Homo sapiens: one gene and its partner. The protein of the gene in region 2 interacts with the protein of the main gene of each other region in a biochemical or structural test. Each region holds a gene or a part of one and is shown on either strand. Other genes may lie near its edges.

Region 1 (2,325 bases), on a different chromosome or scaffold from region 2:
TGTGTGTCCATTAGACACGGCTGATGTGTGTGCAAAGTATCCATGCGGAGTTGATGCTTTGGGAATTGGCTCATGAAGGTTCTTCTCAAGGGTGCGAGCTCATCCCCCTCTCTCCTTCCTTCTTATTGACTGGGAGACTGTGCTCTCGACAGATTCTTCTTGTGTCAGAAGTCTAGCCTCAGGTTTCTACCCTCCCTTCACATTGGTGGCCAAGGGAGGAGCATTTCATTTGGAGTGATTATGAATCTTTTCAAGACCAAACCAAGCTAGGACATTAAAAAAAAAAAAAGAAAAAGAAAGAAAAAACAAAATGGAAAAAGGAAAAAAAAAAAGAACTGAGATGACAGAGTTTTGAGAATATATTTGTACCATATTTAATTTTTAAAGTCTCTGGTATTAGCCTCATAAGTTATTGACTATTCCCCGGGGTTGGCGGGGAGTGGGGACATGAGTTGGTCTGCCTGTTGTGGGGCCGGGAAGGGGAGGGAGTCAGGCACAAGTGGCCTCTTTGTTTGGTCTTAAAGGCATCCATTTCTGGGAATGAAGCCATGTTCGCTGCTAACACTTTTGGATGTTGTGAGGCCACGTGGAGTGTGTGAGAGACTAGGTTTTATGGATGGTCTGGTTCAGGTACCAGGTCTGCTGGAAGGTTCCTGTTCGGATAAGCTGGTAGCTACCTAGCTCTGAGCCTGCCTTCAAGAACACCTGTGTTCATCCTCTGATTCTCTGTGTGTACCTCTTGTGGCGTTTCCTCTCCCGGGTGTGAACATCCTAACCGTTATTGTGCAAACCCAAGAACGTCAGATCCCAAAGCACAACAACCTGGATGGACTTTGGGAACATCTAAGCAATGTAAGAGAGAGGTGCACTGAGAGTACGTCTTGGTCCCCTCCACCCTGAGAGCATCTGACGGTCCTCAGTACTGAACTCCCGGAAGCTGCTCTGAGCCCGGTGACCTCATCTGGGCCAGGTGTGGTGCCTGAGCTGAATGCTCAGGTGCTTACAGTGTTGCAATCCCTAAGAGAGTAGAGTCTGGAGGAGAAACCGTGAAAAAGACCTTACACACCACCAAGAACTTCCGAATGGGCGTGAATCCACCGTTTCTTCTCTTTGCAAAAAGAACCACCACAGCTGCTCAAAGAACACAGTGAACTCATCACTTTGGTTCATCAAAAAATCATCGCCCATGCGTTATTCCTGAGTGCATTTTCTTACAACTTTTTGACTGCTTCCTTTTCTTCTTCTCTTAAGAGTTGTGGGCTTAAGAATGGGATAGAGTCATAATGGCAACCTCCAAGCCCTCTCAATTCTTGATTAAGAACACAGGTAGACATGAATCCCAATTGTCTATTGCTATCTTATTTATATGATTCGGGAAAATACAGCATGTAAAAATATTGCTGAGGAGCCTCAGTGATTGGGTACAAGAAGCAAGAGTACAGAAATTATTTTTGCCAAATTTATTTTGTAAATATGAGGGTCTGTACCTAAATTTAAAAAAAAAACACGTAGAACTAGGTATTTTGTTCTCTTCTTAGTAAATTTGTAGTGGTTGTATACTACACTAGCTGCAATTTTCACATTTTTCTAATTCAGAAAGGTTTTTCTTATATTAGGGGAAAAAGTATTTATTTTAATATATAAAATCACTCTGAAAATCACTCTCATAAAAAATGGAGCGCATGTAAATTTTTATCAAAGAAAAATAAACAGGTGAATGGGGGATAGTGATTTTCTTTTTTCAGCACAGTCTACCTCAGTGTATTGTTAAGATGTGATTCAATCATGGACATCTTTGAGATTTCAGAATTCTACCTGGAACCGGTCTGAATCAGGGAACGTGTGTATCAGCTGATTCGAATGCCAGGGACCAGTAAGAATTTTGAGGGAGGGAGTTGGGATGGAGAAGGTATGGCCTTTATGCGAGCATAGATCCTTTTCTTCCTGGCTGGTAATATTCTTCTCTGAATTTAATCTTCCTTTAAAAAAAAATCCTCCATCTATTGTCACTATGTTCCCCAAACATAAACTAAGTTCCAGGCTGTCATGATGTATCTGATATATGGGGTAACCCAGCAAGGTGTACCTTCCTTTGGTGAGAGATGGCTGCCGGGGCAAAGACGGGCTTTGATTCAGAGCAAGCATTCCCACCTGTTCCATGGAATCCCCCTGAAGTGAGCACAAAGGTGCCCTGGGCTCCCTGATGGTTTATGCCCACTCCTTTCAGGCTGGTGATGCACCTTACACACAAACACCTAATGCAATGTCTTTTTAAATTCTCCAAGTGGGATGGGAGCATGTGAGGGAAATTCCAATCCAAAACCC
Region 2 (3,500 bases):
AAATCTGTCTTAGATACTAATTTTTTAATATAAGCTTTTAATGTATTGTTAACAATTTGGTCACATTATATTACTGGGTTTTGTGTTTCTAAATTATTTTAGTAGTTATAACTGGATAACTTATTTTCTTTTTCTTCTGTATTATAGATCTTAGTGTTTTTGTATCGGTCAAAAATTTATCTGACTGAATAATTAGAAATAATTTAGGGAAGAATCACTTAAAATAACAGTGGCAAAAATACTGTAGAATGTCTTGATTGGCCATATAATGTTACTCGTTTTTCCTAAATGTTTAGTCATTTTTTACTGTTCCTTTAACTACAGATTACATTTTTTTGTTTGTTTGTTTTTACTGTCTTCACAAATGCTTCCAAATATGGCTGCTTCCAACCCTGAGTTTAACCCAGGAACAATACTGCAAACTGCTCAATTCAGTAGTGAGTGGGCTATATGCATACCTACTCATCAAAGCTATTATTTAAAGAATTATTATTTTTTTAGCACTCTTAGCATTTCAAGATAATGCATGCACTCAGTTCCCAAAGTGTATTATTGCTTCTTGAAACTCCTCTTTGATCTGCTGAAAGTAATGATGGCTACCATCTTAAACAGACCCTAAGGTTGAGAGTAAACATATAAATTTGAAAGCTGTTTATTGATATATTGATTATCAGTGGTCACTTACCTATCAGTGAACTTTGGTAGTGACACATACAGACTGGTATTTATAACGTGCAGGCAAAATAAGTACTGTGACCTTGAAAGATTTTTTTTTTTTTTTGAGACTTGCACTCAAAAGATTTTTTTTTTGAGTCTTGCACTGTCACCCAGGCTAGAGTGCAGTGGCAAGATCTCGGCTCAGCCTCCCAAGTAGCTGGGATTACAGGCACCCACTACCACACCCAGCTAATTTTTATGTTTTTAGTAGAGACAGGGTTTCGATATGTTTGCCAGGCTGGTCTCAAATTCCTGGCCTCAAGTGATCTGCCCACCTAGGCCTCCCAAAGTGCTGGGATTACAGACGTGAGCTACCACACCTGGCCTTGAAAGATTATTTTCTATTTCTGACCCATTATATACCACCCATACTGTAGTGCTTGTATTTTCTCTCACACATACTGTATTTTTTAACTTGAGAGAGTGTATTTGGTAGACTAGATGACAGTCTTTTTGAGACAGAGTTTTGCTCTTGTTGCCCAGGCTGAAGTGCAGTGGCGCAATCTTGGCTCACTGCAACCTCCGCCTCCTGGGTTCAAGGAATTCTCCTGCCTCATCCTCCCTAGTAGTTGGGAATACAGGCATGCGCCACCATGCCTGGCTAATTTTTTGTATTTTTAGTAGAGACAGGGTTTCACTGTGTTAGCCAGGATGGTCTGGATCTCCTGACCTCGTGATCCGCCCACCTCGGCCTCCCAAAGGGCTGGGATTACAGGCGTGAGCCACCACGCCCAGCCAGGTGACAGTCTTAAACTATTTGCTTAAATTACAGAATTATCTTTTCTTGATTTATCTTTGTTTTATTTGAAGGATCTTTAGAAGATAATGAATAGTATAATATTACTTTACCAGTTTACCATAATTTTAAATTGCTAATGTCTTTTGTTCCTCAGCTTCAGAATTTGAAATATAACTGCCCAGCTGTAACTATATAAGAAAATATGTAGATAAGAAATTTTCATTTTGAGTTTTTAGTATATCAAGCATGTGGTATTGTACCTAGGAAGTTTTATTGTTTTTTTGTTGTTGTTTTGTTCTTTTGCTTTTTTTTTTAAAAAAAACCAAAAAACCATTACTGGAAATAGGATTTGGTGAGGGCCAGAAAGATGTATGATGTGATATGCTTATTAAAAGTTACTACTACATGACGAGTCTGTTGGTGGCTCATGCCTGTAATCCCAGCATTTTGGGAGGCTGAGGCAGGAAGTTCACTTGAGCCCAGGAGTTCATAACCAGTCTGGGTGACATAGTGACACCCAATCTCTACAAAAGATAAAAAACTAGCCGGGCATGGTGGTGCACACTTGTGGTCCCAGCTACTCTGGAGGCTGAGGTAGGAAGATCACTTGAGCCTAGGAGCTCAAGGCTGCAGTGAGCCATAATTGCGTCCCGGCACTCTGCCTGGGCAACAGAGGGAGACCCTGTCTCAAAAAAAAAAAAAAAAAAAGAGTAAGATATAGCTAAAAGCACCCTACTATGTGCCAGCTCATTTCTGTTTGTTTGGTTTTGTATTTCAAAGCAAAAATCACTATACATGTGATTTCTGGTTTCTTTTTACTCAACCTTAACTATGTTATTGGTTTGATTTTAACCGAAGATTTTCCTGTGTGTAAATGTTCTTTGTTGCAGCATAACTACAAGTAGTCTCATTTTTAATGTGTTGCCAAATATTTACCATATGGATTATTTACTTTATAGATTGTTTATTTACCTTATAGATTATTATTTCCTTTGTAGATCATTATCTTATAGAGCCATTGGCACCAGAATTAGAGTTTTGGGGGGTTTTTTGGTCCTAGAACTTGTTAGTGAATTACAGTCACACATTTCTTAATGGCAGGGATATGTTCTAAGAAAAATATGTCATTAGGCAGTTTTGCCATTGTGTGAATGTCATAGAATGTATTTACACAAACCTAGATGGTATAGTATATACTACACATCTGGGCCATACAATGTAACCTCTTGCTCCTAGGCTACAAACTTGTATAGCATATTACCATACTCAACAATTGTAACACAATGGTAAGTATTTGTGTATCTAAACATAGAAAAGGTACAGTAAAAATATGGTATCATAATCTTACAGGACCGCTGTTGTTTATGCGGTCTTGTTGATGAAAACATCATTATGTAGTGCATGACTATAATGGAATACTTTTGTATTGATACCTAAAAAAAACTTTTGCATAAGTTACTGCCTGACAAAAATTCTTAGCTATCAATTCTAATTTCAGTCTTGACTTAGGCCTCCTGAAAGATTTCTCAGATTCAACTACAGAAGGCCCCATACAGTGTATGATTTGCAAAAGCCTATATAAAATACGCAATATCTGGTTGGATAACCTCTAAAACAAAAGTTTTTAACAGGAAAGGCAGCCCAAAGTTCCAGGGAGAAACATGCATTTGCAAAGCAAGGGCCACGCTTAGAAAATAAAAGTTTTTAAGGGTGAGAACTGCCATGAGAGAAAAAGCACAGAGTTTCTGGAAGATAACTGATAGAAAAAGGGCTGAACTGCCCTTTTTGTTTTGTTCATTTAATTTAAGAAATGGTACCAGAATGCCAAGATTATGTGTCCCTTCCTTCCAACAGCCATCTCTTCACTGTGCGCTGTTAGTAGCAAGAGGGCAAGGAGACATATGGTGATGACTCAGACTACCACTACTGGATAAGGTAGATAGTTCTTTAGTGGCAAGAGAGAGTTCTGGTACTCTTGGTAGATGTATCAAGTATTGGACTGGAACTCCTCTTTCAGGAGGACCCAGAAGCTGTATTTTCTTGC

Evidence for each region.
Region 1: of the proteins of PTPN12 (region 2) and INSR, one has a biochemical effect on the other in vitro, tested with the Homo sapiens proteins (one large-scale study listed by IntAct).

The regions. Positions count from the first base shown.
Region 1 is NC_000019.10:7,114,090-7,116,414, reverse strand, and holds part of INSR (insulin receptor isoform Long preproprotein), read left to right. Parts: 3' UTR 1-2,325. UniProt on the Homo sapiens protein: Receptor tyrosine kinase which mediates the pleiotropic actions of insulin.
Region 2 is NC_000007.14:77,627,795-77,631,294, forward strand, and holds part of PTPN12 (tyrosine-protein phosphatase non-receptor type 12), read left to right. Parts: intron 1-3,500. UniProt on the Homo sapiens protein: Dephosphorylates a range of proteins, and thereby regulates cellular signaling cascades. Dephosphorylates cellular tyrosine kinases, such as ERBB2 and PTK2B/PYK2, and thereby regulates signaling via ERBB2 and PTK2B/PYK2.